Linked DNA regions of Homo sapiens. The protein of the gene in region 1 interacts with the protein of each later gene in a pairwise test. Each region holds a gene or a part of one and is shown in the gene's direction. Other genes may lie near its edges.

Region 1 (3,662 bases):
TTTTTGGAGATGGCATCTCACTCTGTCACCAAGCCTGGAGTGCAGTGGTGCCATAATGGCTCACTGTAGCCTCGACCTCCCAGGCTCATGTAATCCTCCCACCTCAGCCTCTGGAGTAGCTGGGACCACAGACACACACCACCGTGCCTGGTTAATGTTTTTTAAAAAATTTTTAAGAGACAGGGTCTCACTGTGTTGCCAAGGCTGGTCTCAAACTTCTGGGCTCAAGCCATCCTCCTGCCTTGGCCTCCCAAAGTGCTGGGATTACAGGCATGAGCCACCACTTAGCCCGGCCACAGTGTGTATACATTAAGTATGTAATTAATGTAGATCCTTCAGAGAGTCTATTATGAATGTCAAATATTAAAATTATTGACAAATTGGAAATAGGAGATTATTTGATATTAGTGGAGATCAAATTAAGAGTTTGTGATTTCACAATATTTGTTTCTTTTGATTACAGATTATTGAAACTATGCCAATGACTGAGAAAGTTGAAGAATTGCTGCGTGTCATAGGTCCATTTTATGAAATTGTCGAGGACAAAAAGAGTGGCAGGAGTTCTGATATAACCTCAGGTTGGACTATTTTACCTATTTTTAAATTCATCAACTGATATATTATGCACATATTAATATTTGTATCTCTGATTTTTTTTCTTACTTTCACGCGCCAGTCCGACTGGAGAAAATCTCTAAATGTTTAGAAGGTAGGAATCATGAAATCATGTAAAAGTTTTGTTTAAAATTTACATGTCAAAAGAATTCTGCACAAACTTACAGAACTTACAATCTTGTCACCCAGGAGTTTTCATTCCAGGCAAACACATTATATGAAGTTCCAAAACATTATAAACCCTTAAAATTTTAACCCTTAAGTGGTAAGCTATTAAAATACACCAGGTAGTTTACTTAGTATATTCGAAATTATAGCAGAATTCATGGTTTTATTTTGATAGGTCATGTTTTCTATTTTGCTTTGAGAATTACGTTAATAGTACTTTGAATTCAATGATTTACTAGCTAATTTTAAAATGGATATGTTGGCCAGGTGTGGTGGCTCATGCCTGTAATCCCAGCACTTTGGGAAGCGAAAGCGGGCAGATCACCTTGAGGTCAGGAGTTCAAGACCAGACTTGCCAACTTGGTGAAACCCCGTCTCTACAAAAAACACAAAAATTAGCCAGGCATGGTGGCACACGCCTGTGATCCCAGCTACTTGGGAGGCTGAGGCACAAGAATCACTTGAACCCAGGAGGCAAAGTTTGCAGTGAGACGAGATCACTCTGCTGCACTCCGGCCTGAGCAACAGAGTGAGATGCTGTCTCAAAAAAAGAAAAAAACAAACAAAAAAAGAAATTAAAAATAGATGTGTTTAGGGTGTGGTTTAACTATAGCATATAAGCTAATGCAAGACAGTTAATTCATTTAGCTTGTTTTCTTTTTTCTTTATTTTGGTTCAAGCATCTCTGCATGGATTACAACTTCTATTTTTTTTTTTTTTTTAGAATTTTGTCTTCATGTACACAAAGGATTGAAAGGGTTGTGTTTTGCATACTTGTAGGAGTTGAATAAAATGGGAGATTTGTTGGTATTAACTAAACATTTGATCTTGAATTTTTTTTAGAAAGCAGAGTGAAATGAGACCACAAGAGTCAATTTAAGAGAAAATTATATACCCTTTAAATAAAAATCGCCTGGCATCCCCTTTTTTTCCCTTGACATCCCTATTTATAAGACATCTTTTAATAATTGACAATAATGGCAGCATTTCAGAATAGTAATCTTCCTGTGCTGAAATCGGTCCTTGTCACGGTCATAAACCACGTGCAAGTAGTACTGACTGCTTACTGGGCATAACTCTACCACATCATTCTACATCTGATTTGCTTACAGAAGTCAAATATTAACAAGTAGTCCTTCTTATAAGGCATGCTTATTCAATTCAGAGAAAAAACTAAATGTTTTCTTCTTTTCTTTTTTTTTTTTTTTTTTTTTTGAGATGGAGTCTTCCTCTGTCACACTGACTGGAGTGCAGTGGTCCCATCTTGACTCACTGCAACCTCCAACTCCTGGGTTCAAGCAATTCTCCTGACTTAGCCTCCCAGGTAGCTGGGATTACAAGTGTACACTTGTATTCTTGTATGGCTAATTTTTGTATTTTTAGTAGAGCCAGGGTTTTGCCATGTGGGCCAGGCTGATCTCGAACTCCTGACCTCAGGTAATCCTCCCAACTCAGCTTCCCAAAGCACTGGAATTAAAGGCATGAGCAATTGTACCCTGCCAGAAAAAAAAAATTAAATGTTTTATGTATGTCAGGCATGTTGGGATGCAGAGGGAAATAAATCTGGATCTGCTGCTGTGGTGTCCAGCCACTGGCCAGAGGCAGATATTTAAACAGCTAATTATAAAACAAAGAAGAGTAAATAATAGTAATAAAGGTGCAGGCTCACAGCTACCTAGCTATAACTTACAATTTTAAAAATCTTTGAAGACCAGAAGTTTTTTGGTAAACTCATTTGGCAGCAAAACCTGTCTGATATGAACTAAAAATCTGGGGAGTAAAACCTGACCTGAAGTAAAACGAGGGTATTTTGAGTCTCTTTCCTCTTTAATGTAACTATTTATATGTTTTGCTGCAAAAATCACATTCTCTTTTTAGTGAGAGCTGCCTTAGACTCTATTGGATGTGTTACATAATATACCAAATGGCATATGTACCATATAACCTTTGCAAAATTAGAAAACTTGAGATTTCAAAATGTATCTGGATCCAAGGGTTGTAAGTAAGGGATTGTGGACCTGCACCATAATTTTTTTAACCTGAGCCATTCTGGTGGACATTTAGGTTATTTACTCCTTTGATCTTCAGAAAATACTGCTGAGAATAACCACGTACATTTGTCATTTCACATATGTGAAAGCATATCTGTAAGAAATATTAGAAATGGAGTTAGAAATGTTTGATGTTTGTAATTTTGTAAGATATTACCAAATTGCAAAACAGTTTGCAGTCTTGCCTTTTTTTTTCTAAACAAAGCATTTCCTTAAAAGTAGCCATTTAGGTCCAATAGAACAGATGTATCAGTTTTACATTGCCATTTTCAGAATATACATATACAGTAAGTTTTGAAATCAGGAATGATGAGTCCTCCAATTTTGTTATTTTTCAAGATTGTTTTGGCTAATCTTGATCCCTCACATTTTCATATGAATTTTAGAATCTGCATGTCAATTTTTGCAGAAATGCCAGCTTGGATTTTGATACAGATTGCAGTGAATTTGCAGATCATTTTGGGGAGTATTGTTACCTCAAAAATATTGTCTTTCAATCCATGTTCTCAAAACAGTGTCCAGTAACCAACAGCATTGGTAACAAATGTGATCTTTATAGAAATTTGGAATCTTAGATCACCCTAGACATACTAATTCAGAATCTGCATCTTAAATAGCTCTCAGAAGATTTGTATGCACATTAAAGTTGAGAAGCTCTGATGTATTTACCCTCGGGATATAGCTTTGGCCACTTGGACAATTTGCTTTTGTAAGTGATTGATCACATTAATGGATACTTTAAGAAAAAAACTTAAATATCATAAAGACAGATAATGTGAGTTGTGCACCTGAAGTCCTAAAGGTAATACAGGAATAAAGTTTGTAAAA
Region 2 (3,558 bases), on another chromosome or scaffold:
CCCTCTCAACTGCTGGCCATGTCCCCTGCCACCCTGTGGAACAGCAGGCTCGGAGAGCAGCCGGTGAGATGCTCTTAGTGAACAGGGCTCTGAAAGCCAGATCCCCTTCCCCTTCCCCATCACCTGTTCCCTTGAAGGGGTAGTTCCTAGACCTCACAAGTCACCTTGAGTCCTGGCCCTTCGATGGGACTCTGTTTGCCCAGGCCCTTTCATCAGGTATGAGGACTCTCGGATTTGAATGTTGTTCAATGAAACCCTGCTTGTGAAGCTATCCTTTGCTCTCCAAACTCTGTCCTCCTGCATTCAACCTTGCTCACACTCTCCTCCTCTTCAATCCACCCTGAATTTCTGTTCCTGGGCTGTCCTATCTTCATGTCACAGGTCTCAGGACAGTTTTGTTTGTCACCAGGAGAAAGAAGCCAAGGTCCCCTGAGCTGCCGGTTCTCCCTGCAGCAGGCTTTCCCAGGGCTCTGATCCCAGGGCTGAGCAAGGAGCTAGTGGAAGGAGCCTAAGGATATAGGGAGTCGGGTGGGTGGAGGCCGGGGCAGGGAATAGAGGCCTGTCAGGCCCTGTATGGGGTGGGCGAGCCTGTCCTAGCTCAAAGTTAAGCACAGCTCCTGTGCTGATTAGAAATGGGTTTGGAGAGTGGGGTTCTGAAAACGCATCCAAGTCAATGCCCAGCCTCTAATATTATCATCTTCCCCACCACACTGGGAGCTGCCACCTCAGCCAATGACACTGTCTCCTATTCCTTTCTCTTCAACCCCATCTTCTGCCCTGACTCAGGTCTTTCATTTCCCCTGTTGGTCTTGCATGGACCAGCTATGTTCTCCTAGTTCTGCCCTCGGACACTGTCTGACATTGCCGTGGTGTGCTTCCCCTCCATCTACTACCCATGGCTTCCTGCTGCCCAGAAACAGAATCTGGGCTTGGGGCACACCATATTTCTCTCTCCCCCATCTCGCTTTTTTGTTTTTCTTTCTTTCTTTCTTTTTTAAGAGACAGGGTCTTGCTCATTGTCCATGCTGGAGTGCAGTGGCACAATCATAGCTCACTGTAGCCTCAAACTCTTGAACTCAAGGGATCCTCCTGCCTTAGCGTCTGGGACTACAGGCACACCACATCAAACCAGCCTACTTTTTTTTCTTTTTGTAGAGATGGTGGTCTCGCTATGTTGCCCAGGCTGGTCTCGAACTCCTGGCCTCAAGCTATTCTCCCACCTCAGCCTCCAAAAGTGCTGGGACTGCAGGCATGAACTCCATCCTCTCTTCTGTTCAGCAACTTCCTGTCTCTCACCCTAGGTTTCTCTCTCCCTTTGACAGCTACCCCTTTCTTCTTGCTTCTGCTCCAAGGGTTTTGGGATCTGACTCTCCCAAGTTACTTGCTGGGGTTGGGGAAGAGACTGGACCCTCCCGTCTGTTACCAGCTGGGAAACCGGTCTGGGCCATCCCAGAGAGATCAGAGGCAAGAAGAGCAGGGTTTAAAGTCAGCTTCAAGGCTGGGGTCTGGCCTGAGTAATGAGATCCACACAGTCATGTCAGGCTGCTGCAGGAGAGCCCCTGTGAGGTTCCTGTTCCCTCAGCCCGGGCCCTGGGGGTTGGAAGAGCCAGGGGGATACGTGCAGGTCATGGGGCCTGAGTTGGGGTAGGAGGTCCAGAGGTCTCCACATCCCTGTGCTGTGCCATCTGTCTCAGGCCCTCAGACCGCCTCAGTGTGTTCCCCTGGAGCCTGGATCTGTTCTCTCCTGCCCGGGGGTAGGAGGTTAAATGAGGGGGTGAGAGGCTGTGCCCCTTTCATTCCACCATCTTTTCAAGTCTGCCCCTCGGGCTGGCTCTGACACCCTTCCTCTTCCATTCATCCCTCGGTAGCCACAGGGAAGCTGGAGGCTCACCTTCAGTCTCCCGGGATGTCTGTGGGAGTTTTGTTCTCCTGAGGGCCATATGTGGGGTTATTATTGCCACCCGATTTCTTGGCTCGCTAGCTTGGTGCTCAGGGTTGTGATGAAGACCTAACCTGCTTGACAGGAAGGGCTGCCTGGAGGCTGCCGAGAGCAGGGGCACAGTGACCCTGCATCGGGTAAGAGGCGGTGTAAAAGCAGGAGGGGCTGTCCAGAGGTCTGGCTCTGTGCCAGAAATGACAGCTGCCCTTTCTGGAGCCTTAGCTGTATTTTAAGTAGTGTATATGTACGAGTTCATTCGTCCTCACAACAGCCTTCTGTGGTCATTACTTCCGTTATCCTCACTTTACCTACAAGGACCCTGAGGCACAGGGTGGTTGGGCAGCGTCCATTAGGTCTCACAGGTGGAAAGCATCAGCCAGGATTCCAACCCAGGCAGTTAGGATCATCTGGGGTCCCTGAACTTAACCAGCTGGCCATATTGAGACCTGTGAGGCATGGTTTGTTGTTGGATGACACAGGAGGGAAGAGCCTGCAATAATTTTACATGACTTCAGGTTTCTTTGGGTTCATTTGCTTAGCAAATTCATTGAACACCTTCTATACACGAGGTATGAATACGGTGAATACATATTCATTCCACAAGCATTTTTTTTTCCTTTTTTGAGACGGAGTCTCACTCTGTCACCTAGGCTAGAGTGCAGTGGCGCTATCTCGGCTCACGGCAACCTCCGCCTCCCAGGTTCAAGCGATTCTCCTGCCTCAGCCTCCCGAGTAGCTGGGATTACAGGTGCATGCCACCATGCCCGGCTAATTTTTGTATTTTTAGTAGGGATGTGGTTTCACCATGTTGGCCAGGCTGGTCTCGAACTCCTGACCTCAGGTGATCTACCCACCTCGGCCTCCCAAAGTACTGGGATTACAGGCATGAGCTACTGCACCCAGCTTCCACAAGCATTTTTTTTTTTTTTTGAGACAGAGTCTTGCTCTGTAGCCCAGGCTGGAGTGCAGTGGTACGATCTCGCTCACTGCTACCTCCACCTCCTGGGTCCCGGTTCAAGCAATTCTTCTGCCTCAGCCTCCCGAGTAGCTGGGATTACAGGCACACGCCACCACGCCCAGCTAATTTTTGTACTTTTAGTAGAGACAGGGTTTCACCATGTTGGCCAGGCTGGTCTTGAACTCCTGACCTCATGATCCACCCACCTCAGCCTCCCAAAGTGCTGGGTTTACAGGGTGAGCCACCACGTCCAGCCTCCATAAGCATTTTTAAGATGAAATTTTAGTTTTATAAAAGTTATACATGCTTGTTAGGAAAAAAAAGTATGCAGAAAAATATAAAGAAAAAAAGCACATATGATATCACCATCCAGAGATGATTGTTGTTTAATTTTTTTGTATATGTGCACATATGCATGCCTTTGCAGAATCGGAGTTAGGTTGAATATTCAGTTTTGAATCCTGCTTTTTTCTCTTACCACTATCTTAAACAAGCATTCCTCAGGAGGCTGCTGGTGCTGGCGTTCAGATGAATCCAGTGAAGCAGAGTGCTCACTATTACCACAGAGAAGGGAGGGTGCAGAAGTGGGAAGACAACTCTGGAGTCAGGGTGCTTAGGAAAGTCCTCACAGAGGAGGAGCTGGGTCTTAAAGGAGGGTTCA
Region 3 (2,971 bases), on another chromosome or scaffold:
ATGTCGGAAGAAGAGCTGACCAAGGCCATGGAGGGGCTAGGCATGGACGAAGGGGATGGGGAAGGGAACATCCTCCCCATCATGCAGAGTATTATGCAGAACCTACTCTCCAAGGATGTGCTGTACCCATCACTGAAGGAGATCACAGAAAAGGTTTGTGAACTTCCATTTCTGCTTTTTCTCTTCATTTTCCATCACATCAACTGATGTGGGCTATTTTGTCTACTCAGAGCCTGCAGAAAGAGTAACTCGAGTGTGCTTTTTTTCCTTCTTTATTTATTTGAGGCAGGGAGAGTTGGGGGTTGGGGAGAGTTGTGTCTCTGAGAGAATAAAGCTGTCACACGGTATGTTGGGGTATAAGAGGTATAACGTTTGGGGTCTAAGAGGAAATCCTTCAGTTCTAGTTTTCTATAAACTGGTTCAAGACTCTGGGATTGTTGTCTGATCAATCTTGCATTTCTGACTTCATTTCTCCAGCAAGAATTTGGCTGGGCATGGTGGCTCATGCCTGTAATCCCAGCACCTTGGGAGGCCGAGGCGGGTGGATCACCTGAGGTCAGGAGTTCGAGACCAGCCTGGCCAACATGGTGAAACCCCGTCTGTAGTAAAAATACAAAAATTATCCTGGCGTAGTGGCTCACGCCTGTGATCGCAACTACTCAGGAGGCAGCAGGAGAATCACTTGAACCTGGGAGGCAGAGGTTGCAGTGAGCTGAGATTGTGCCACTGTACTCCGGCCTGGGTGACAGAGCAAGACTCCATCTGAAAAAGAAAAAGAATTAACTGAGGATTTACTTACTGGCTTTGTGATGTGAACAGTGTAAGCGTAGTTTAAATGATGGTCCCTGCCATAAAAGAGCTTATATGTGTGGTTGTATCATTTTGTTTTGAGACAGGGTCTAGCTCCAGTTGGAGCACAGTGGCACGATCTTGGCTCACCACAGCCTCCCCATCCCAGGCTCAAGTGTTTCTCCCATCTCAGCCTCCTGAGTGGCTGGGACTACAGGTGTGTGCCACCATGCTTGGCCAATGTTTTCAAAATTTTTTGTAGAGTTGAGCTCTCACTATATTGCTCAGGCTGGTCTCAAACTCCTGAGCTCAAGTGATCCTCCCACCTCAGCCTCCCAAAATGCTGGGATTACAAGTGTGAGCCACCACACCTGGCTAAAGAGTGTATAGTTTTACTGGAGAGATAAAATACAGGAATAGAAGCTTTTCAGTGACATGGGGAAATGTGGGTAAGTGTGTAATGAATAGTACAGACCACGAGTCAGCAGGCCAAGACCTGGGTGGGACAAATCCAACTCTCTAGCAAATAATGGTTTTTACATTTTTAAGGTCATTTGAAAAAAACTACAAAGAAAATGTGCAATAGCCGAGCGTAGTGGCTCACTCCTATAGTCCCAGCGCTTTGGGAGGCCACGGTGGACAGATTGCTTGAGCCCAGGAGTTTAAGACCAGCTTGAGCAACATGATGAAACCCTGTCTCTACAAAATACAAAAAAATTAGCCAGTCACAGTGGTGCACACTTGTAGACCCAGCTACTTGGGGAGGCTCAGGTGGGAGGATTGCTTGAGCCTGGGGAGATCGAGGCTGCAGTGAGTGGTGATCACACCATCACACTCCAGCCTGGGTGACAGAGTAAAACTCTGTCTCGAAAAAAAAGAAAAAAAAAACACAATAGAGACCATATGTGGCCCTTGAAGCCTAAAATATTCACTGTCTGGCCCTTTACAGAAGCTTACCAATCTCTGGTGACCATAAATGCTAACATGGCCAGGTGATCTGGTTGGAGTCAGTGCCGCTTTTCATGATGAACTTACTTATTTAGCTTTTCGTTTTTCTACGTCCCTTTCCCTTTCACATTTTAATCACATTGTTCTGATTACCCATCCATATCCATTGTTCACTTAATTCTTTTCCACCCATTCTCTCTTTTCTTAGTATCCAGAATGGTTGCAGAGTCATCGGGAATCTCTACCTCCAGAGCAGTTTGAAAAATATCAGGAGCAGCACAGCGTCATGTGCAAAATATGTGAGCAGTTTGAGGCAGAGACCCCCACAGACAGTGAAACCACTCAAAAGGCTCGTTTTGAGATGGTGCTGGATCTTATGCAGCAGGTAAGGCCTCTTGCCTTCTGCCCACTGGTGCTGTCCACTTAGGTGTTCAGTGAAGGAAGTATCTGGGAAGGATGCAATACTGCTAGACCTAGGTGGAGGAGGGATCCTCTCTTGTGATCTCTCTCAGAAGAAATAGAGAGATCATTCATTAGATTCCTCTTCTGGATCCTCTGTTGTTTTCTGGGCTTTTCTCTATTTCATGTTCCATTTTCCTTATTTTCTAGCTACAAGATTTAGGCCATCCTCCAAAAGAGCTGGCTGGAGAGATGGTGAGTATGTCTTATTTTTCCAGATTTTAATTTGAGTCCCCAATTTCCAGAATTCTTTAACCTCTCAGGATTCCACCTAAGGTGAAAATTGTGGCTACTGGGGATGGATCTTCACGTCTGTCCTAAAAAATGAGCAACTATCTGAGTCCCTTCATCTCTTCCCCAGCCTCCTGGCCTCAACTTTGACCTGGATGCCCTCAATCTTTCGGGCCCACCAGGTGCCAGTGGTGAACAGTGTCTGATCATGTGAAACACAACACGTTTTCCTCTCTGAGTCCCAGCTATGGGGAACATCTGGAGTCAGCAGAACCATTGGGACCTGAGGCAGGAGTGTCACCTGCGGGAGAAGTCTGCCCGCTGCCCTCTGTCATCCCATTCAAGATTGTGCCATACCAGCTGAGGTTTTTCCTCTGTCTCTCTAGGAATAGGGTCTGTTTCACAGGCCATTTCTGTGAACCCTACTCCATTGTGGTTTCTGCCACTATCAAAGTTCCAGCTACCTGCAAGGTGAAGGAAGGCATCCCTTTTGGGGCATGCACTTTCTTTCCTTTCTCAAAATAATGTTATATGTGGCCACACT
Region 4 (3,558 bases), on another chromosome or scaffold:
CAGTTAGGGGTCTGGCTCCTGTGAGCTAGAGGTGGGGAGCTGCTAGCAGCAGGGGCACCTCTAAGCCCTTCTCCATGTGGGCAGGGCGGTGGTGGAAGGCCTGTGGCTGCGCTACCAGGGGGTGCCAGTGGAGGAGGACGTGGGGCGGGAGCGGCGGCGGCGAGTGCTGCAGACGCTGGTCTGGTTCCTGCTCACCCTGCTGCTGGCGCTCTTCATCCCTGACATCGGCAAGGTGATCTCAGTCATTGGAGGCCTGGCCGCCTGCTTCATCTTCGTCTTCCCAGGTGCGGACCCCTGGCGCCCCATCTCACAGCCCCACAGCACAGACTCCCAGGGCCTGCCTAGCCTCAGCTCCCTACTTGCTCAAAACATGCAGGAGAGAGTAACCACCAGCACTAATTGATCACCTGTCTCGCCTCTGTACTAGCCCCTATCCAAGCATTATCTCCTGGAAAGAAGGTATAGTTGTGATCTCCAGTTTACTGATGGCACGTGGGGCTCAGAAAGGGTCACAGACTTGCCTAGAGCTTAACAAACTCAACTAGTAACCTTTTCCATCCCACGCTGTCTGGGTCCAGAGTCTATTCTTTTAACCATTCATTCAGGTGTCTGCTGCTCCTTGACTATGAGGGATCTATCTGGCTGGTTCAGCCCATTACAGCCCAGAGGGCAGTGGGGTCTGGGGTGGCACCCTGACACAGACATCAGGGAACCTGGGTTCCAGACACAGATCTACCGCCAGATCCCTGGAGAACTGTCCTGTCTGCCCAGCCATGAGTTCCACCCTTTTCCAGCTTGTCTCTATCCAGGAAGCCACCCTGAAAGCCCCAGCTGCTTTGCTTGGAGCAGGGGAGCCAGATCTGCTGGGAAGTGTACTAGGAAGACCCCTGGGGTTGGGCCACCACTGAGTCACCATTGAGTGCTGTCCCTTTAGCTGAGTCTAGCATGCTGCCCAAGGGGTCTTGTCAGATGCCAGCCTGTCATGGGAGAGCAGATGCCAGATGACCCCAGCAGGATGTGGTGTGGGGGCAGAGATGGAATTTCTAGAAGAGTAAACATGGGCCTTTCTCCATCCAGCACTGCTTCTTGGGAAAGGAGGTGGCTAGGAGGGAGGGAGCCCTCTCCCCTCACAAATGCTCAGGGCCACTTCTTCTCTTTCAGGGCTGTGCCTCATTCAAGCCAAACTCTCTGAGATGGAAGAGGTCAAACCAGCCAGGTAAAGCAGGACCCAGCCCTTGATCCTCTCAGGGAGGTGCTGGATTGGAATGTGGCTTTGTGGGGGCCTTAAAACAGATAGGAGTCAGAGGCTTGTGTACTTAGAAATCATGGGTTTTTGTTTTGTTTTTTTTTTTTTGAGCCGGAGTCTCGCTGTGTCGCCCAGCCTGGAGTGCAGTGGCACGATCTCAGCTCACTGCAAGCTCCGCCTCCTGGGTTCACACCATTCTCGTGCCTCAGCCTCCCGAGTAGCTAGGACTACAGATGCCTGCCACCACACCCAGCTAATTTTTGTATTTTTAGTAGAGACGAGGTTTCACCATGTTGGCCAGGCCGGTCTCGAACTCCTGACCTTAGGTGATCCTCCTTCCTCGGCCTCCCAAAGTGCTGGCATTACAGGCGTGAGCCACCACACCCAGCCAGGTTGTTGTTGTTTTTTTTTTAATACTTTTAAAAATTCGGTAGTGTGCTAGTTGTTAACAATTTAAACATTAATAAAGGGCTTAATACAAAAAGATGGAAGTCCCTCTTCCCCCACAACCCACTCGCCCCCACATCCTTTCTGAGATAGCTCCATGTTACCAGTATGGTCTGTGTCCTCAACCACTTCTGTACATGTGTGCGTGTCTGTGTACACATAGCTATGGAGATGTATACATAGATGCAGGGCTCTTGTTTTGTTTTATGAAAAGTGGTTTCAGCCAGGTGCATTGGCTCATGCCTGTAATCCCAGCACTTTGGGAGGCCAACATGGGCAGATCACCCGAGGTCAGGAGTTCGAGACCAGCCTGACCAACATGGTGAAACCCCATCTCTACTAAAAATACAAAATTAGCTGGGCATGGTGGCACCTGCCTGTAATCCCAGCTACTTGGGAGACTGAGGCAGGAGAATTGCTTGAACCCAGGAGGCGGAGGTTGCAGTGAGCCGAGATCACACCATTACACTCCAGCCTGGGCAACAAGAGGGAAACTCTGTCTCAAAAAAAAAAAAAAAAAAAAAAAAAAAAAGCCATACAAACATGTCTAAAAAAGAAAAAAAATTGGCCAGGCACAGTGACTCACGCCTGTAATCCCAGCACTTTGGGAGGCCAAGACAGGCAGATCACCTGAGGTCAGGAGTTCGAGACCAGCCTGGCCAACATGGCAAAACCCCGTCTTTACTAAAAATACAAAAATTACCTGGTTGTGGTGGCGCATGCCTGTAGTCCTAGCTCGGGAGGCTGAGGTAGGAGAATTGCTTGAACCCCGGAGGCGGAGGTTGCAGTAAGTGGAGATCGCACCACTGCACTCCAGCCTGGGTGATAGCAAAACTCTGTCTCAAAAAAAGAAAAAGAAGAAGAAGAAAAAAAATCACCCTTTATTTCTTTTTTTTTTGTCTTTTTTTTTTTTTTTTTTTTTGAGATGGAGTTTCACTCGTTGCCCAGGCTGGAGTGCAATGGCGCGATCTCTGCTCACTACAACAACCTCCACCTCCCGGGTTCAAGCGATTCTCCTGCCTCAGCCTCCTGAGTAGCTTGGATTACAGGCGCCCACCACCACACCCAGCTAATTTTTTGGGTTTGTTGTTGTTGTTTTGAGATGGAATCTCGCTCTGTCACCCAGGCTGGAGTGCAGTGGCATGATCTCGGCTCACTGCAACCTCCAGGGTATCTGGGATTACAGGTGCGCAGCACCATGCCTGGCTAATTTTTGTATTTTTGGTAGAGACGGGGTTTCACCATGTTGGCTAGGCTGATCTCGAACTCCTGACCTCAGGTGATCCGCCCACCTTGGCCTCCCAAAGTTCTGGGATTACAGGCGTGAGCCACCATACCCAGCCATTTTTTGTATTTTTTTAGTAGAGACGGGGTTTCACCACGCTGGCCAGGCTGGTCTCAAACTCCTGACCTCAGGTGATCCACCTGCCTTGGCCTCCCAAAGTGCTGGGATTATAGACATGAGCCACCACACCCAGCCTAATTTTTCTATTTTTAGTAGAGATGGGGTTTCGCCATCTTGCCCAGGCTGGTCTTGAACTCCTGACCTCAGGTGATCCATCTGCCTCGGCCTCCCAAAGTGCTGGAATTACAGACATGAGCCACTGCACCCAGCCTAATTTTTCTGTTTTTAGTAGAGATGGGGTTTTGCCATCTTGCCCAGGCTGGTCTCGAACTCCTGACCTCAGGTTGCCCGCCTTGGCCTCCCAAAGTGCTGGGATTACAGGTGTGAGCCACCACACCCGGCCGGAAATCACCCTTTATTTCAATTCCGTTTTATCCCTGTTGCTGTTAATTGGTACATACATTTGCAGATGTCTGCTTTTTGTTTCCTTTTTTTAATGAAATAGACCACATTCCATGTG

Evidence for each region. Proteins that work in one complex are often made in the same cells at the same time.
Region 2: the proteins of ACBD5 (region 1) and TMEM229B interact in binary tests that used the Homo sapiens proteins (3 or more experiments, as listed by UniProt).
Region 3: the proteins of ACBD5 (region 1) and PEX19 come close enough for resonance energy transfer, tested with the Homo sapiens proteins (one large-scale study listed by BioGRID).
Region 4: the proteins of ACBD5 (region 1) and SLC38A7 interact in binary tests that used the Homo sapiens proteins (3 or more experiments, as listed by UniProt).

The regions. Positions count from the first base shown.
Region 1 is NC_000010.11:27,220,254-27,223,915, reverse strand, and holds part of ACBD5 (acyl-CoA-binding domain-containing protein 5), read left to right. Parts: intron 1-463; coding exon 464-578; intron 579-676; coding exon of another isoform or gene 677-709; intron 710-3,662. UniProt on the Homo sapiens protein: Acyl-CoA binding protein which acts as the peroxisome receptor for pexophagy but is dispensable for aggrephagy and nonselective autophagy. Binds medium- and long-chain acyl-CoA esters.
Region 2 is NC_000014.9:67,478,722-67,482,279, reverse strand, and holds part of TMEM229B (transmembrane protein 229B), read left to right. Parts: intron 1-3,558.
Region 3 is NC_000001.11:160,279,221-160,282,191, reverse strand, and holds part of PEX19 (peroxisomal biogenesis factor 19), read left to right. Parts: coding exon 1-153; intron 154-1,945; coding exon 1,946-2,122; intron 2,123-2,346; coding exon 2,347-2,391; intron 2,392-2,557; coding exon 2,558-2,641; 3' UTR 2,642-2,971. UniProt on the Homo sapiens protein: Necessary for early peroxisomal biogenesis. Acts both as a cytosolic chaperone and as an import receptor for peroxisomal membrane proteins (PMPs).
Region 4 is NC_000016.10:58,667,771-58,671,328, reverse strand, and holds part of SLC38A7 (sodium-coupled neutral amino acid transporter 7), read left to right. Parts: intron 1-84; coding exon 85-284; exon of another isoform or gene 285-459; intron 460-1,161; coding exon 1,162-1,216; intron 1,217-3,558. UniProt on the Homo sapiens protein: Symporter that selectively cotransports sodium ions and amino acids, such as L-glutamine and L-asparagine from the lysosome into the cytoplasm and may participates in mTORC1 activation. The transport activity requires an acidic lysosomal lumen.